Regions from separate parts of the Homo sapiens genome. Here region 1 is linked to region 2. Evidence: fine-mapped expression QTL. A gene starts in region 2. The other region holds a variant in brackets. All regions are shown on one strand. Distances are between the middles of the regions.

Evidence for each region. PIP is the estimated chance that this variant, and not a neighbour inherited with it, causes the effect.
Region 1: its variant is fine-mapped to the expression of PWWP2A in macrophages (Nedelec 2016, PIP 0.95).

Annotation. Positions count from the first base shown.
Region 1 is chr5:160,161,402-160,170,897 of GRCh38, reverse strand. No RefSeq gene overlaps it. Among named protein-coding and RNA genes, the nearest start is that of FABP6-AS1, 44 kb to the left of the region's middle. RefSeq lists enhancers at 3,607-4,207, 4,862-5,156, 5,409-6,008, 7,690-8,344, 9,002-9,496 and a silencer at 4,862-5,156. The variant C/T (reference allele first, on the strand shown) is at 5,161.
Region 2 is chr5:160,115,578-160,125,073 of GRCh38, reverse strand. It overlaps PWWP2A (PWWP domain containing 2A), which reads left to right and starts at 5,624. Exons shown (of 2, transcript NM_001130864.2): 1 at 5,624-6,269. The coding sequence starts at 5,686. RefSeq lists silencers at 5,499-5,548, 5,709-5,808, 5,909-6,088, 6,209-6,628 and an enhancer at 5,573-6,072.

The sequences.
Region 1 (9,496 bases), 46 kb before region 2:
TAGCCTGGGCGACAAAGCAAGACTCCATCTCAAAAGAGGAGAGAGCTTGCTTTTTATGGCGGGTCTGCACCCAGCAATGTAGAGCTGTCTGTAGAGGCTTCTAGATATGAAAATGTAAAGGGAAGGAGGCACCATCAGGGCCCCCAGTTGTTGCCCCTTCCCTTGCTTTTCAGATATCACATGATGTACCACAACTGCTGGGTTCTACTTCAGGGCACACTAACCTCAATTCCTTCATTTTTTTTTTTTTTTTTTTTTTTTTTTTGAGGCAGAGTTTCGCTCTTGTTGCCCAGGCTGGAGTGCAATGGCGTGATCTCGGCTCACCGCAACCTCTGCCTCCTAGGTTCAAGCGATTCTCCTGCCTCAGCCTCCCTAGTAGTTGGAATTACAGGCATCAACCACCACGCCTGGCTAATTTTTTTATTTTTGGTAGAGAGGGGGTTTCACCATGTGGGCCAGGCTGGTCTTGAACTCCTGACCTCAGGTGATCCACCCGCCTGAGCCTCCCAAAGTGCTGGGATTACAGATGTAAGCCACCACGCCCGGCCACAATTCCTTTATCTTTTAAGTGGGAAGAATAGTAATACCTGCCACCCAGGCTTGTTGTGAAGGTTAATTAGACTAATAGCTTGCAAAGTGCTTAGACCAATGCCCGGAACATATTAATACCACAATATTAATACCAGGTTTCTCTTTTTTTCCTCATTTAATCCTCATGACTTCCCTTGGAGAAACAGGGGCCATTATTGTTTTGGTTTTATAGAAAAAAAAAAACAGAAGCCTGGAAAGATAAAGTGACCTTTTATAGGTCACACAGCTCTAGCGATGGAATTTAAACTAGGTCAGTCTGACTCCAGCTTATTCCTGCTCTACCGTGCAGTTGATTCCAATCACATTCAGTGGACACGCTGGGGACGTTGGTGGTGTGGCCACAGCTCCCATGCTGTCTGTCTGGTGGGCACTGGGTAGTTTGGCTTGCCTGTCACTGTATCCCTGACCCCTACCCCATTCCTGCCAATGGGAAGCCCACACAGCCAGCAGACCAGAAGGAAAAGAAGTGAAACTGTGTTCTGGGAGTAAAAACGGTGGTGATGAAGGGGGAATAAGATCATTTCCACCCTCCTCACTGTAGTGACAATTCTTTGAGCCCTTCGTATGTGGCAGATACTGTGCTCAGGGCTTTGCATGCCAAATGATTTAAGATTCTTATGACTACAAGTAAAGGAACCCCAACTAAATAAGGAAAACCCAACTAACGAACTGGCTCATAGAATTAGGAAGTCAGGAAGTGAATCTGGCTTCAAGCAATGCAAGATGATGTCTACATCATCTTCGTCATCTTGGCTGTATTTCCTTCTAAGAAGTGACTTCATCCACAGATAGACAGGCTCTCTCGGGATTTATATTCTCCCAGCTCAGTAACCCCAGGAAGAAGCAGTCCTTTCCCAAGGCAGGCTCTGGTTGGCTTTCTTGAGGCTTCAGCCCACCCCAGGGACCAATCACTGTTGCCAAAAAGGGGATCTCATGATTGGCTGGGCATGGTCTGTGCCCCTACCCTGTGCCCAGGAAGAGGCCAAGGCTCTGACTGAAAGTCTCAACAGAGTACATGGAATGAATAGCATGGATTCCCAAAGAAAGGAATGCTCCACAGACAAAAGAGTCAATGAGTGAATTTATGACTGTTTCACTATATATGCATTACTTCATGTAATCTGTACTATAATCTTCATTCTGCAGAGGAGGAGAGAGATACAGAGAAACTGTGTCAGAAGGTCACACTTGGCTGGGCGCAGTGGCTCACGCCTGTAATCCCAGCACTTTGGGAGGCTGAGGCAGGCGGATCACTTGAGGTCAGGAGTTCAAGATCAGCTTGACCAAAATGGCAAAACCCTGTCTCTACTAAAAATACAAAAATTAGCCAGGCATGGTGGCAGGCACCTACTTTCCCAGCTACTTGGGAGGCTGAGGCAGGAGAATCACTTGAACCCAGGAGGCGGAGGTTGCAGTGAGCCGAGATTGCGCCACTGCACTCCAGGCTGGGTAAGAGAGTGAGACCCCGTTTCAGAAAATAAATACATAAAATTTTAAAAAATTTTAAATTAAAAAAAAAAAGGGTCACACTCATGCCAGGCACAGTGGCTCATGCCTGTAATCCCAGTACTTTGGGAGGCCAGATTGCCTGAGGCCAGAAGTTCAAGACCAGCCTAGGCAACACAGCAAGACCTTGTCTCTACAAAATAAAGAAATCAGCTGGGCATGGCGGTGCATACCTGTAGTAACAGCTACATGGGACGCTGAGGCAGGAGGATTGCTTGAGCCCAGAAGTTCAAGGCTGCAGTGAGCTATGCTCACACCACTGCACTCCAGCCTCGGCAACAGAGTGAGACTGTGTCCTTCACCCCAACCCCCAGAAAAAAGCCAAAAGGGGAAAAAAAAAAAGGTCACACTCTCAATAATGGCCCAGCAAGGAGTGGAACCTGGGGTTGCCTGGCTCCACAAAGCACCTACTTTTACACATGGTCATTTACTGTCCTCATAGGCTCTGCAGAGCTGAAGGACATGCATGGGAAAAAGGGGTATCTAGGAGGAATTGGGGAGCGGGAGAAGAGAATGAAGATTTTTGCAAAGTATCGCTGGGCCCTGCCTTTAGTGGCCTACAGTAATTTCCAATAGGGAAAGGTCCAAGTGCCCACTGTGGGCATGGAGCTCACCAATACGTATGCTCAGAGGCTCTGCTGTACCCCTTGGCTTGGAACCCTGACTGGGGATCCACCAGCTTGTTTTCTACTCTTTGGACATGAGTCAGGCTTTGCCCGGGGCTCAGGTTTGGGACTGAGCTGTGTTGCTTGCTGTCTGTATGTTCTTACATGTAGGAAGCAGCCCTCATCAAAACCAGCTTGTCAAACAGCATGCCAGCCACCCTGTTCCCTAATAGGGAATCTCTACCCACACCAACTCTACCCCAGCTAATTCCTCTTACAAGCCACAGCCTCTCCCATCCCTTGGATTTGGCACCTCATATTGCTCCTTTGCTTGCCCGGAAAGCTCTTCTTCTACCCTCTCTCCTGCCTGACTCCTCATCCTGTGGAATTCAGCTCAAAGGTCACTTCTTTCATGAAGCACCTATGTCATGCCTACTGCCTCCCCCTGGTCTACAGGCTGCTTCTCGGTACTTACCTCTAATATAGCACTAATCACTTTCTGATGAAATTTTTTTTACTGGTCTGTTTTCCTCACCAAAATCTAAGATCTCTGAGGATAAGAACTTCATCTTTGAAAACAGTTGGTGTTCCATACATTTGCATTGAATTGACAGATGAATGAAGGACACTACTAGGACCCATGGCATTCTCTTTGCGGGTTTGTGCTCTAGAAATCAAGTTTCCCTAGGGTATATGCTGTTGTCAGAGGCATTCAAACCAGAGCGACTCCATCTTGAACAGGAGCTGAGTAAAATAATGCTGAGACCTACTGGGCTGCATTCCCAAAAAGTTAAGGCATCCTTAGTCACGCGTTGATGAGATAGGAGGTCGGCACAAGATACAGGTCATAAAAGACCTTGCTGATAAAACAGGTTGCAGTAAAGACACCGGCCAAAACTCAACAAAACCAAGATGGTCATGAAAGTGACCTCTGGTCATCCTCACCACTCATTATACACTAATTACAATGCAGTAGCATGCTAAAAGACACTCCCACCAGTGCCACGACAGTTTACAAATGCCACGGCAACATCAGGAAGTTACCCTATATGGTCTAAAAGAGGGGGAACCCTCAGCTCCGGAAATTGCCCACCCCTTTCCTGAAAAATCATGAATAATTCACCCCCTGTTTAGCATATAATCAAGCAATAAGTATCCTTAGTCCAGCAGCCCAAGCTGCTGCTCTGCCTATGGAGTAGCCGTTCTTTTATTCCTTTATTTCCTTAATAAACTTGCTTTCACTTTATGGACTCTCCCCAAACTCTTTGTTGTGTGAGGTCCAAGAACCCTCTCTTGAGTTCTGTATCAGGACCCCCTTTTCCGATAACACCGGGGGTGCTGACAGGGCAGAAATGCAGCCAGGATCCTTGAGATTTCATTGGCAAATCCCTCCAATTCCAAGCAATCAGGGTGGGTTTTAAAGGGCCCCAGGTTCTTTGCTGGCTTCTTTCTGCCTTGAAGAAAATGAAGTAGAATTTAGTTCTTAGGTAAATCATAGACTTGTGTAGAATGTTGGAGTCATGGAAGCTTAGATGAGCAGGTGGAGACGGGGCAGGGAAAAGTTTTCCTCTACCTTGTTAGGATAATGACTGGGGGCCTGCAAATTAAACTGACAAAAGACAGATTAGCATGAGAAGAGACGGATTTAATCATTTAATCTTATCCTTAAAGGAATTCACACAAAAATGTGACTCAGGAAGGCATTAGAATTGGGAGTTTATATACCATCTTAATAGAGGAAGGAAAAGGGAGAAGGGCACTTACAGGAACACGTGACTTTTAGGAAAGAGAGATGGGCCCTTAGGAGAATAGATGGGAGATATGATAATTTTGTGACAGTCTGTTTAGGTGTGGTGACTTCTAGCCTTCAGAGATAACAGTCAATCTTCCCTGATTGCTCTGGGAGGGGATTTATAATTGAGTTCTTTTGGGAGGCTCTACTTTTAGGCAGATCAAAGATTTCAGGAACTCAAATCCCTTCTGCTCATAATAATTTTTATGCCATGGCAGCATATTCTAGACCCCTTCACTGAAAAGTCCAGGGATTAGATACCAACTACATCATTTAAAGCTGGATCTAGGAGCTCAAACCATTTCATCAAGTCTCAGTTATTTTTCTGTCTCTTACACATGTCAATTAATCAATCTGTTGTCCTCTCCCTCCCTCTCTATGCTGTCTTTCTCTGTGATGGCTTCATTCTCTGGCAAGCTCCTCCCATGTCAGGACCAGATGGCCCCCAGCACCTCCAGATATGCATCAAGCCAATTGCTGTCAATTTTACTTTTCCCAAGAGTTCCAGCAAAATCCCTTGGATTGGGTTTCACTGGATCCAGCAGAAGAAGAAGTCTGCTGATTGGCCAGGCCGGGCACACATGCCCACCCTCAAGCTGGGAGGGTGGAAAAGCAAAGTCAGCCTCACCCAAACCGCATGGACTGAGTGGAGGCGGGGTGGTTTCC[C/T]GGAGGATAACTAGGGTGCTGCTAACAGAAGGAGCAGAGTGGATGCTCGGCAAGGGAAAACCACAGATGTCCTCTGTACAGAGTGACTCTACAGTGTAAGAAAAGCTGAATCACAGAGTCATGGGATCACAGAGTCTCAGGAGACCCCTTCAAAGTGGGCTCCTCCAGTTCTTTCTGTGGCAGCTGCTTGCCCGGTGCCTCAGGGAGCCCCATGCTGTCCCTGACTGATGCCTGAGTGCTGGGCAGCCTGGGGAATCGGGGCGAGGGTCCCCCTGGCATTCCCCCCTCCTTCCTCACTGCTCTTCTGCTGGAAGATTCTGGGTCACAGCTGCCCACCAGGCGCCTTGTTTATGCTCCTTCCCAGCGAGCTCTGGGTTCTGGCCATCTGCCAGGCTGGCTGCCAGCCACACTGACCACAGACTACATTCTCTCTCCCTGACACACAGGCCCAGTCGGAAGGACATCCGGGGCTCCTCCAGGGATAGCAGCAGGCCAGGGCACAGAGAGCGGTCCTCTTGGAGGCCGAGGCCTCAGGCCTCTTCTAGACTAGGATAGTGGTCTCCCCTCTCACCTTCCACCAGAGCCACAGCCACGCCTCTCCAGCAACACACTGGAGCATGCAGTTCAGATCTGCTCAGACACTCTTAAGGCTTGGGCCATTACGTTTCTCCCAAGTGAGAGCCAGCAGCAAGAGGAAAAGAAGGGTTAACCTAAACAGAGCCTTACTGAGTAGAAAGGCCAGACCTTCTTCCTCTCCCCGCAACTGGGTCTCAAAGAGATTCCCCAGTGACTCCTGCTATCCCTTCTTCTTTTCCTCCTTCCCTGTTCACTGCTCTCTCCATAGAACATTCCAGCAGAAAGACAGCTTTAAAAACACCTAATCTGGGATAGCTCAGTGGCTCACGTCTGTAATGCCAGCCTTTTGGGAGGCTGAGGTGGGCGGATCGCTTGAGCCCACAAGCTCAAGGTATGCCTGGGCAACATAGGGAGACCCTGCCTCTACAGATAATTTTTTAAAAAATTAGCCAGGCCAGGTGGCACAGACTTGTGGTCCCAGCTACTCAAGAAGCTGAGGCAGGAGGATCACCTGAGCCTGGGAGGTTGAGGCTACAGTAAGTCATTATCGCACTAGTGCACTCCAGCCTGAGTGACAGAGGAGACCCTGTCTCAAAAGAAAAGAAAAAAAAAAAAGCCCGGACACGGTGGCTTACACCTGTAATCCCAGCGCTTTGGGAGGCTGAGGTGGGTAGACCACGACGTCAGGAGATTAAGACCAGCCTGGCCAAGATGGTGAAACCCCATCTCTACTAAAAATGCAAAAAATTAGCCAGGCATGGTGGTAGGTGCCTGTAATACCAGGTACTCGGGAGACTGAGGCAGAGAATTGCTTGAACCCGGGAGGCAGAGGTTGCAGTGAGCCTAGATCTCGCCACTGCACTCCAGCCTGGGCTACAGATGGAGACTCTGTCTCAAAAACAAAACAAAACAACACAAACAAACAAAAAACCCACCTAATCTGGAGATGGCAGGCTGGCAGCTCACAGTCCAGAATACGTTGTACTTGGCCCTCCTACTTTTTAAGAAAAATTTGAGCCAAAGTTTTAATAATCGGGAAATTTCAAATAAAAATTGATGTGTTCAATTTCTCTAGAAAGTGTGTGAGATCTGCTAACATTGGGCATCCATGTCCACATGGCACCAATCAGCATATGCTGAGTGCCAGTTGCCCTAAAGACAGAGTGGGCATCCTACATGTTCCCCATAGACAGTCAGCAGGCCCCTCTTATTCCCCTCCACTGAGACCAAGTGCCAGTTGTCATTTTCCTTCACTCCTTTTTTTTTTTTTTTTTTGAGACTCAGTCTTGCTCTGTCACCCAGGCTGGAGTACAGTGGGGCAATCTCAGCCTGCTGCAACCTCGGCTTCCCAGGTTCAAGTGATTCTCTTGCCTCAGCCTCCTGAGTATCTGGGATTACAGGTACATGCCATCATGCCTGGCTAATTTTTGTATTTTTAATAGAGATGGGGTTTCACCATGTTGGCCAGGCTGGTCTCAAACTCCTGACCTTAAGTGATCCACCTGCCTTGGCCTCCCAAAGTGCTGGGATTACAGGTGTGAGCCACCACGCCCCGCCATCATTTTCCTTCACTCTTGCATTTTTTTTTTAATTACTTTAGATAGTCTGCCTCTACGGATTCATCAGAAATAGGAAACGAGACTGAGAGTGTGGCATGTTTCAAGGAAATCAGAAGAGAACCTACGTGTTTATAGAGGAAATGAATATTCCTAGACGTTTCTATTATTGGCATGACCCCAGTGTAAGCATTTGCATTTGTAACCCCAATCTCATCAACCGCCTGCTAGTTTGCAGTAGGACTCATCTAGGCCCAGAAAGGTATATCCAGTCCCTTGGCCAAGGCTGGGCTGAGTCAGAAAAAAGGGGATGTAAAGGGGGTTTGGGGTTCCCTCCATCCACACCTGCTCTCAGCATAAATGAAGACATCTTTTCAGAAGCAACATCACCGTCATCTCCATGCCTCTCACTTTAAGGGGGAAGTTAGCCAGGCTTGGTGGCACATGCCTGTAGTCCCAGCTACTCAGAAGGCTAAGATGAGAGGGTTGCCGGAGCCCAGAAGTTCGAGTCCTGCCTGGGCAACATAGTGAGATCCCATCTCTAAAAAAATTTTAAAAAGAGGGAGCCAGCCGGGCATGGCAGCTCACGCCTGTAATCCCAGCACGTTGGGAGACTGAGGTGGGTGAACCACCTGAGGTCAGGAGTTCAAGACCAGCCTGACCAATATGGTGAAACCCCGTCTCTACTAAAAATACAAAAATTAGCTGGGCATAGTGGTGTGTACCTGTAGTCTCAGCTACTTGGGAGGGTGAGACAGTAGAACTGCTTGAACGCAGGAGGCGGAGGTTGCAGTGAGCTGAGATGGTGCCACTGCACTCCAGCCTGGGCAACAGAGCAAGATTCTGTCTCAAAAAAAAAAAAAAAAAAAAAAAAAAAAAAAAAAAAGGGCTGGCACAGTGACTCACGCCTGTAATCCTAGCACTTTGGGAGGCTGAGGCGGGCAGATCATGAGGTCAGGAGTTCAACAGCAGCCTGGCCAACATGGTGAAACCCCATCTCTACAAAAATATGAAAATTAGCTGGGCGTCATGGCGGGTGTCTGTAATTCCAGCTACTTGGGAGGCTGAGGCAGGAAAATCGCTTCAACCCAGGAGACGGAGGTCGCAGTGAGCCAAGATCGTGCGACTGCACTCCAGCCTGGGCCACAGAGCGAGACCCTGTCTCAAAAAAAAAAAAAAAAAAAAGCCTTTGAGGAAAGAAGGGTGGGAAGGACCAAAGGCCATCATCTGAGGAACCGTCTAGGAGCTGGGAGCTGACCTGTTCTCAGGGCTCCAGGCTCACTGCAGCGATGCCGGGAAGCTGACTTCTCACCAGAGGGAAGAAGTTTCTGTTGAATCTTGTTGTTTGAATGGGCTGCCTGGAGAGACAGGAAGTTCCTGCTCTTGAAGACCATCAGGAAAGACACAAGACCACTGGGGAAGTTGTAGGAAGAGTTAAGATAGAGGGTCTGGGTTGAGCCGACGTTATTTTTTGGAGGATCTCTGATAAATATCAGAGGCTTTGGGAGCCCCCTAAAATTACAAAAAGTTACATGTCTTAGGAGAGCATTTATGACTTTTTTCAGATTCAAAGGGACACCTGAGCCTACAAAAAGGTTATCATCCTCAAAAAACAAAACATAGAACTACCATATGATCCAGCAACCCCACTGCTAGGTATGTGTTCAAAAGAAAGGAAATCAGTTTGTCCAGAGCTATCTGTACCCTTGTGTTTATCACAGCACTACACAATAGCCAAGATATGTAATCAACCTCAGTGTCTGATATGGTTTGGCTGTGTCCCACGTGAATCTCACCTTGAATTGTAACAATCCTCACGTGTCAAGGGGAGGGCCAGATAATTGAATCATGGGGCGGTTTCACCCATACTGTTCTCCTGGTAGTGAATAAGTCTTACGAGACCTAATTTTTTTTTGTTTGTTTGTTTTTGAGACGGAGTCTCACTCTGTCTCCCAGGCTGGAGTACAATGGCGCATTCAGCTCACTGCAACCTCCACCTCCTGGGTTCAAGCAATTCTCCTGTCTCAGCCTCCCGAGTAGCTGGGACTACAGGCGCCCACCACCACGCCTGGCTTATTTTTGTATTTTTAGTAGAGACAGGGTTTCACCATGTTGACCAGGCTAGTCTTGAACTCCTGACCTCTGGTGATCCACCTGCCTCGGCCTCCCAAAGTGCTGGGATTACAGGCGTGAGCCACAGCGAC
Region 2 (9,496 bases):
GGTGAGCAGATCACTTGAGGTCAGGAGTCTGAGACCAGCCTGGCCAACATGGTAAAACCCCATCTCTACTAAAAATACAAAAAATTAGTTGAGCATGATGGTGGGTGCCTGTAATTCCAGCTACTCTGGTAGCTGAGGTATGAGAATTGCTTGAACCTGGGAGGTGGAGGTTGCAGTGAGCTGAGGTTGTACCACTGCACTCCAGCCTGGGCGACAGAGCAAGACTCAGCCTTGAAAAACAAAACAAAAACCCCCCTAGTAATCTCTATTGGTAAGTAGTTATTATTAAGATGTTTTACAAATGAGGAAATAGGTTAAGTGATTTGCCTAAGATCATGCTCAGATCATATAGGTAGTCAGAGGATGACTGGGGAGTCAGATACAGTTTTATTTATTTTTTTATTATTTATATTATTTTATTTATTTATTTATTTATTTATTTATTTATTTATTTATTTATTTATTGAGACGGAGTCTCGCTCTGTTGCCCAGGCTGGAGTGCAGTGGCACGATCTCGGCTCACTGCAAGCTCCGCCTCCCGGGCTCATGCCATTCTCCTGCCTCAGCCTCCAGAGCAGCTGGGACTACAGGAGCCTGCCACTACGCCTGGCTAATTTTTTGTATTTTTAGTAGAGATGGGGTTTCACCATGTTAGCCAGGATGGTCTCGATCTCCTGACCTTGTGATCTGCCCGCCTCGGCCTCCCAAAGTGCTGGTATTACAGGCGTGAGCCACCGCGCCCGGCGCTATTTTTTATTTTTATTTTTTGAGACGGAGTCTTGCTCAGTCACCCAGGCTGGAGTGCAGTGGCACGATCTCGGTTCACCATAACCTCCACCTCCAGGGTTCAAGCAATTCTCCAGTAGCTGGGACTACAGGTGCATGCCACCATGCCTGGCTAATTTTTGTATTTTTAGTAGAGACAGGTTTTCACCATGTTGGCCAGGCTGGTCTCGAACTCCTGACCTCAGGTGATCCATCCACCTCGGCCTCCCAAAGTGCTGGGATTACAGGCGTGAGCCACCATGCCTGGCTTATTTTTTTTTTTTTGAGACGGAGTTTCGCTCTTGTTGCCCAGGCTGGAGTGCAATGGCGCGATCTTGGCTCACTGCAACATCTGCCTCCTGAGTAGTTCAAGCAATTCTCTTGCCTCAGCCTCCTGAGTAGTTGGGATTACAGGCATGCACCACCACTTCCAGCTAATTTTTTTTAGTAGAGATGGGGTTTCACTGTGTTGGCCAGGCTGGTCTTGAACTCCTGACCTCAGGTGATCCACCAGCCTCGGCCTCCCAAAGTGCTGGGATTATGGGCATGAGCTACCGCGCCTGGCTTTATTTTTTATTTTTGAGAAAGCATCTCACTCTGTTGCCCAGGCTGAAGTGTAGTGGTAAAATCATGGCTCACTGCAACCTCAATCTCCCGGGCTCAGCCTCCTGAGTAGCTGGGACTACAGGCACACACCATCATGCTTGTCTAATTTTTGTATTTTTTGTAGAGACAGGGTTTTGCCACGTTGCCCAGGCTTGTGTCAAATTCTTGAGCTCAGGTGATCTGCCTGCCTCCGCCTCCCAAAATGCTGGGATTACAGATGTGAGTCACTGAGCCTGGCCAGTTACAGGTTTATTTACTTCAACTGAATTTTAGCCACCATATTATAGTATCTTGCAGAGCTTGAGATGAAAGTATGCTCATGAAAGTGAGGATCTGTTTCAGCAATCAGCTGGTTTCCTTATCCCTGCCATTCATCTATTCATTCAACCATCCATTCATCTATTCAACCGTCTGTTCAGTTCTCCAACTATCCATCCAATCCATCAACCATCCATCCAATCACCTAGTCAGCCACAAATATCATGTGGCCATCCATTAAACAAATATCAAAGGCATCCTCCATACCAATTCCATGCCAGGAGGAGGCTGAATGCAGAGGTGAATAGATTACAAAAGCAAATGTAAAAGCCAGGTTTCTTTTTTTTCTTTGAGTTCGGGTCTCACCGTCTTGCAAGGCTGGAGTGCAGTGGCATGGTCATAGCTTACTACAGCCTCAAACTCCTAGGCTCAAGCAATCCTCCTGCCTTAGTCTCCCAAAATGTTGGGATTACAGGCATGAGCCACTATGGCTGGCCCAGGCTTTCCACTAGATTTGGAGCTCCCTGAGGGCAGAATCCCTTGCTTTTGTATCTGCAGTACAAAACATGATTTGGGTCCTGTTTTCCTTTTCAACCTCATCTACTCAACTTCTTGCTCATTCCTCAACCAGATTGGTCTTCCTTCTGTTTCTGGAACAAGCCAAGCCCTCTTTTGCCTCAGAACTTCAAACAATTGCTGTTCCTTTTCATCCAAATGTTCATCCAGCAATATCAATAGCTGGTTGCCTTTTCCTTTGCATCTTAGTTAAGATGTCCAATCCTCAGAGAGGGCTTTTGTGACAACCTTATCTAGAGGAGACACCCTTCAGCCCCTCTGCCAGCTACTTCTATTCTCTCACCCTGTTTATTTCTCTCATGGTATTGCTTACATCTGTGATCATCTTTTTATTCATTGTATGCTCATTTTACAGTTCCCCAACTAGAAAAATAATCCTCAGGAGGGCAGTTACTAAATCTTTCGTATATATATATATTCACCAGCCTGGGCAACACAGTGAAACCCCTGTGTTGCCCAGGCTGGTCTTGAACTCCTGAACTCAAGTGATATCTTTTGTATTCTTTATTTCATGCCTTCTGCCTGACTAGTCCAGTCACTGAAACACAGTAGTCCTTTAATATTTATTTATTATTTATTAATTTTTTTTGAGACAAAGTCTTGCTCTGTCACCCAGGCTGGAGTGCAGTGACACAATCTTGGCTAACCATAACCTCCGCCTCCTGGGTTCAAGCGATTCTTCTGCCTCAGTCTCCTGAGTAGCTGGGATTACAGGTGCGTGCCACTGCACTCGGCTAATTTTTTGTATTTTTAGTAGAGACAAGGTTTCACCATGTTGGCCAGGCTAGTCTTGAACTCCTGACCTCAGGTAATCCACCCGCCTCAGCCTCCCAAAGTGCTAGGATTACAGGCATGAGCCACCGCGCCCGGCCCCTTTAATATTTATTTGTTGAATGAATGAATAAGTGAATGAATAATATAAGACCAAATCTTTCTAGTATTAGGAGGCTTGAAGAGTAGTGGAAAAGAGACCTTGAAAGGTAAGGTGACAACACAGAGAGGGCTTTGAAAGCCAAGCAGAAGAAGGTACACTCCATGTGAGCATTGGGAGCCAGTAGAAGCTCTTGAGTTACAGAATGAAATGGTGGCTTAGGACAATGACTTGGTATGCCACAATCTATTATGAAGCTGAAATGTAAATTACTCATTGCAGCATCTTGTAATGAATTACTACAAGAGGTAATCAGGTCCCAGGACCCGAACTATATTTTTCTCCCTGTGGGAGATTATACAATGTGAGACCTTAGGGTCTAGGCATTTCATAGACTCTATGTTGTGTTTAATTAGTTGATTATGGTGAACTGTAGACAAAATATTATGGTGAAAACCCTATAAGGCAGAATCTGTATCTGCTTACTGCAAGTATCTAGCCTGAAGGAGATAACTCTTTGATGAATGAATGATTGAGTGAAAGTCATGTACTTGGAAGGACCCAGGTTAGATAGGATCTGCTGCTAGCTAGCTGTATGACCCTTAAGATCTTATTATCTTTTTATTTTTATTTTTTTGATACGGAGTTTCACTCTTGTTGCCCAGAGTGGAGTGCAGTGGGCACATCTCGGCTCACTGCAACCTCCGCCTCCTGAGTTCAAGCAATTCTCTTGCCTCAGGTTTCCAAGTAGCTGGGATTACAGGCATGCGCCACCATGCTCAGCTAATTTTGTATTTTTAGTAGAGATGGGGTTTCACCATGTTGGTCAGGTTGTTCTCAAACTCCTGACCTCAGGTGGTCCGCCTGCCTCGGCCTCCCAAAGTGCTGGGATTACAGGCTTGAGCCACCGCGCTTGGCCCGCTTAGGATGTTTAACATGGCTAAGGCTTGGCTTCCTCATCTGTAAAAAAGGGAGAAGATTTAAGTCACAGGATTTTAAGTGAGAGTTTTGGGAAAATCTCTGGTACAAAATGAACACTAAGTACATTTGTTTCTTTCTGTATTTTTAAATGATATTCTGAAACTTCCCTGATTGGGATCTTCTACTGGCCTTTCCCCACGAGCCACTTGGTTTGAAATAGGCAGAGCATATGGTGATATTTGTTTATTGCTATTTTCAGTCTTTTCCATGTAAAACTGAAATTCTGACTATGCAATTTACCAGCCGAGTAACCTTGGGCACCCTCTTTGTGCCTCAAAATTTTAAGGATTGAGATGATATGCTATAGTGTTTGTATTAGTGCCTGGTACATGGTACTCAAAAGACACTAGCTGTAATTATTCTTCAGGACTTTATTTTTTTTACTTTCATTGCTAGCAGTTTTTCTACCCTCTCTCCTGCAGGCATTCTCCCAGAAAAAAGGCTGACTCTGTGGTGCCATTTGAGAGAAATAGGTTCAGTAGATTCTTCCAGAGATGACAAACGAAAAGACTTGATGTGGAAGTAAGAGAAGTAGGGGCGTCAGGACACTGAAGTGAGAGATCTTTTGTTCTCGTGGCATTGGAGAAGCCAGGAAAGAAAAAGGCTTTAGCAGGGACCAGGTGCGTCCACTTTGCAAGTGGATTTGGAGAGAACAAGCAGTGTTCACATATCAGTCCAGCAATGTCTCAAGACTCCTTCCTGGAACAGTCATCAGTTTAATCCAGTGAGGATGGTGTCTCTCTTCTTTCATGAGCATTTTCCTATTTCTGAAATATTAATAAATAGGTGCTTTGTTCCTAGGAAGTGGAGAGAAGTCAAGGAAAATACTCATCATACTCCTAGAAGTCAAGGAAAATACTCCTCGTACTCCTCATGGCCGCTGGAGCCCGCTGCTATGAGGTTATGGAGAACGTCTTGAACATTCCATTCCCCAGCACCTAGTGCAGTGACTAGCATAGTAGGCACTCAAAAAGTGTCTGTAGGATTGTATTTCAAACTTTAGTTGTCTTTCCCAAAGAAGCCTGTCGTGCCCACACGCGGCCGCAAGAAGTCCGCGCCTAGAAATAACATTTATTCTAAGGATCTCTGCGCAGAGATTCTTGGGAAGCGGTTCCCCTCCCGCATTCCCTTGTTACTCCTCCCCTCGGCCGCCTTTGAAAGAAGTGGCACGCCACATGATTCCATCCTTTCTCCCACCTCCAAAGACCTGGCTGATAATGGGCAGGAGCGTAGGCCAACCATAAAACTTTATTTCCTCTTCCAGCCAATAGCAAGAGGCGATGAGTATATGGCTCCTCTTTTGTGACTTCCCCCGCCCCCTTTGATTCCGCCCCCTATTCCTCCACTCAGATTCCACACTTGACAACACATCTGGCCAATGAGAAGTTCCTACTCTGCGTGGGAAGGATGGACTGACTAGATGATAGACGTCCATCCCTGGCCAATGGAATATCAAAAGTGCGGGAGGGGTGTAGAATGCAACCAATGGCGAGGTGCCAGAAACGAGCATCAGGGAAAGGGCGGGACGAAAGTGTTCGCGGGAGGGAGGGGAAGGCCCAGGGAACCAAGCAGCGCTGTCGCCGCCGCCGCTGCAGCCGGAGTTGGAGGAGGGAGAAGCTAGGAAGAAAATGGCGGCCGTGGCTGCAGAGGCGGCAGCGACTGCAGCGTCCCCCGGGGAGGGGGGCGCCGGCGAGGCCGAGCCGGAGATGGAGCCCATCCCCGGCAGTGAGGCCGGCACTGACCCCCTCCCGGTCACGGCCACTGAAGCGTCTGTGCCGGATGGCGAGACTGACGGGCAGCAATCCGCTCCTCAGGCCGACGAGCCGCCGCTCCCGCCGCCACCGCCGCCGCCGGGGGAGCTCGCCCGCAGCCCAGAGGCGGTGGGGCCGGAGCTGGAGGCTGAGGAGAAACTGTCCGTTCGGGTGGCGGAGTCGGCGGCAGCCGCGCCTCAGGGAGGGCCGGAACTTCCACCTTCTCCTGCATCGCCGCCGGAGCAGCCCCCGGCTCCCGAGGAGCGCGAGGAGCCGCCGCTGCCTCAGCCCGTAGCCCCGGCGCTCGTGCCGCCGGCGGGCGGGGACTCCACGGTGTCGCAACTGATCCCGGGCTCGGAGGTGCGGGTCACGCTGGACCACATCATTGAGGACGCGCTTGTCGTGTCGTTCCGCTTCGGGGAGAAGCTCTTCTCCGGGGTCCTCATGGATCTGTCCAAAAGGTACCGCGCCCGCCCCCAGCACCCTCCGGTCCGCTGGGTCCCCAGGGAGGGAGTGAGCCCGGGCGGCCCCCTCTCCCCGAGCCCTCGCTTCCCCGCTGCCCGGGGCCCCGCCCTCTGGTCCTGCGCGGCGCGTGGCGCGCGCTCCGAGTGGGGCAGGCGCGCGAGACCGGGAGAGGGCGGTCCCGGCCCCAGGTGGGCGCCTGCGGGGCAGGTGTGCCACCAGGTGGGAGGGTGCAGGTGCAGATGGGCTCACAGGTCTCACCCCTCACGCCTGGTCTTCTTCTGCGACTTGGCCTGGAGTCACCGTCACTGGGCGGGTGGGTTAATGCAAGATGCAGATGGATTTTTGCAGAGAACGGAGTGTTGGACGGGGGGACGGGGGGGCGGGGGGCATTGCTTGCGAGGAGGCACTTGTCTGTCCTCTAACGTTTAACTTTAGCGGGATTGGAGAAAGGGGTGTGTACATTGGGGTTCCCAAAAGGTTACCTGTCACTCCTTACAGGGGGAAGAGCATTTGTTAAAATGAACCTTTTAACTGTAATTCTTACGGTTAGAAGTCATTCCCGTTAGGTTAACCATTCAACAGAGAAGCATATTTTGCTAATTTTAATGATAGTTTAAGAAAAGTTTAAAGAAGAGATTGGAGATTTTTAAAAAATCCTTTAATGTCAAGGTGGTGTAGCATAAAAATGTTCAAGTAACTTCTAACACCTGGGATTCAGTTTATGTATTAAGGACAAGAAGGTTGAGTTCATCTACAAATTTGGCTTAACCACATTTTCATTTTTTGATTTAAAATGTTTTTGGGCTCTGCTTTCAACAGGGGAAGAGAACCTGTTCTAAGTCTGGAGTTAACCTTTTTATTCTCTTCTTTTGCAGATATGAAGTGCAGAGACTCCCATTCACGGCTTTCCATTCTGTTTCCTGCAACAGCACACGCTCTGATCGTATCTCACCTGTTTGCAATGGCTTATTAGTATGTTTTACTCTTAAACTTGCTTGCTCTCCCATCAAGACCCAGGAATCCTTCTTTCCCATTTGGGGAAAAAAGCCATTTAAAATTTCATATTGAAGTATGGTGTTTGAGGGGAAAGATGAGAGCAGTTATTCTGTATTATTTAATCTCAAATATCTTTTTTTTTTTTTTTGAGACGGAGTCTCACTCTGTCACCCAGGCTGGAGTGCAGTGGCGCCATATCGTCTCACTGCAACCTCCGCCTCCTGGGTTCAAGCGATTCTCCCGCCTCAGCCTCCCAAGTAGCTGGGACTACAGGCGTGCGCCACCATGCTGGTCTAATTTTTGTATTTTTTAACTAGAGCCGGGATTTCACCATGTTGGCCAGGCTGGTCTTGAAATCCTGACCTCAGGTTATCCACCCGCCTCAGCCTCCCAAAGGGCTGGGATTACAGGCATGAGCCGCCGTGCCCGGCCTCAAGTATCTTTTTTAAAAATAATTTTGGATTAGGGCATTTGCACTTCTGTTTATGTTTGTTTGTTTACTTATTTAATAGAGACAGGGTCTTGCTGTGCTGCCTAGGCTGGTCTCAGACTCCTGGGCTCAAGCGATCCTACTGCCTTGGCCTTCCAAAGTGCTGAAATTACAGGCGTGAGCCACTGTGCCCGGCCTGCACTCCTGTTTTCATAATTAGAAAGCAGAATAAGGTGAGTGTGCTTTCTATTGATGTATTTTATTTATTTATTTATTTATTTATTTTTGAGACAGAGTTTCGCTCTTGTTGTCCAGGCTGCAGTGGTACAATCTCTGCTCACTGCACCCTCCACCTCCCTGGTTCAAGTGATTCTCCTACCTCAGCCTCCCAAGTAGCTGGGATTACAGGCATGTGCCACCACGCCTGGCTAATTTTGTATTTTTAGTAGAGATGGGGTTTCACCATGTTGGTCAGGTTGGTCTCAAACTCCTGACCTCAGGTGATCCACCCACCTTGGCCTCCCAAAGTGCTGAGATTACAGGCATGAGCCACCTCGCCCGGCCTCTACTGATGTATATAATAGTAAGAGACACTCTGGTGTGTATGCTGTTGAATGAAACAGAAGAGATGGCCAGTGATTGTGTGAGAATCTGGATTTCAAATCTGCAAAAGGAAGGTGCAGAAGGTAAGTTGTTTTTGGAAATGGAATGGATAAGTGCTCATTGTGTTAGTGCTTTATTTTTAAAAAATTTTCTTTAGTGGAGAATTGCTATTGAGTTTTGGTCTCATGCTATCAGTGCTTAGAAACAGCAATTTCTTTTGTTGGAGGAGCTATTCCTAATATGAACCTTTTCCATTTGAATATTCTGAAGTGAAAGGATCCTATTACTATTATTTATTTATTTATTTATTTTTTCCAAGACGGAGTCTTGCTCTGCCGCACAGGCTGGAGTGCAGTGATGCGATCTCGGCTCACTGCAACCTCCGCCTCCCGGGCTGAAGCAATTCTCTTGCCTCAGCCTCCGGAGTAGCTGGGATTACAGGGGCCCAGCACTTTGGGAGGCCAAGGCAGGCAGATCACTTGAGCGCAGGAGTTCCAGAGGATCCTGGGCAACATGGTGAAACCCTGTCTCTACGAAAAAAATATAAAACTTAGCTGGGCGTGGTGGCTTGTGCCTGTGGTCCCAGCTACTTGGGAGGCTGAGGTGGGAGAATCTCTTGAGCCCTGGAGGTGGAGGTTACAGTAGCTAAGATCACACAGTCCAGCCTGGGTGACAGAATGAGACCCTGTCTTAAAAAAAATTGTGGAAATGTTGAGGAAATAAAACACTAAAATTTAGCAATTCAAGGAATTATTATTGGACTAATGATTGACTAGTTGGATTTCCTTTTTTTTTTTACAGTTTAATCTGGAAAAATGGACCTGCCAGTATATTTTGTAATTCGCACTTATGTTGATTGCACACTTTCCTGTGCAGTTTTGGGGTTTACTGATGGATCCAGGAGACAGTGTTTTTTTTTGTTTTTGTTTTTAGGAGGCAGGGTCTCGCTATGTTGCTCAGGCTGCAGTGCAGTGCTGGGATCGTAGCTCACTGCGTTCTTCCACCTCAGCTTCCCAAATAGCTGGGACTACAAGCGCATACCACCACGCCTGGCTAATTTTTTTTTTTTTCCTTTTTTTGAGATGGAGTCTCACTCTGTCACCCAGGCTGGAGTGCAGTGGCATGATCTCAGCTCAGTGCAACCTCCACCTCCTGGGTTCAAGTGAATCTCCTGCCTCAGCCTCCCGAGTAGCT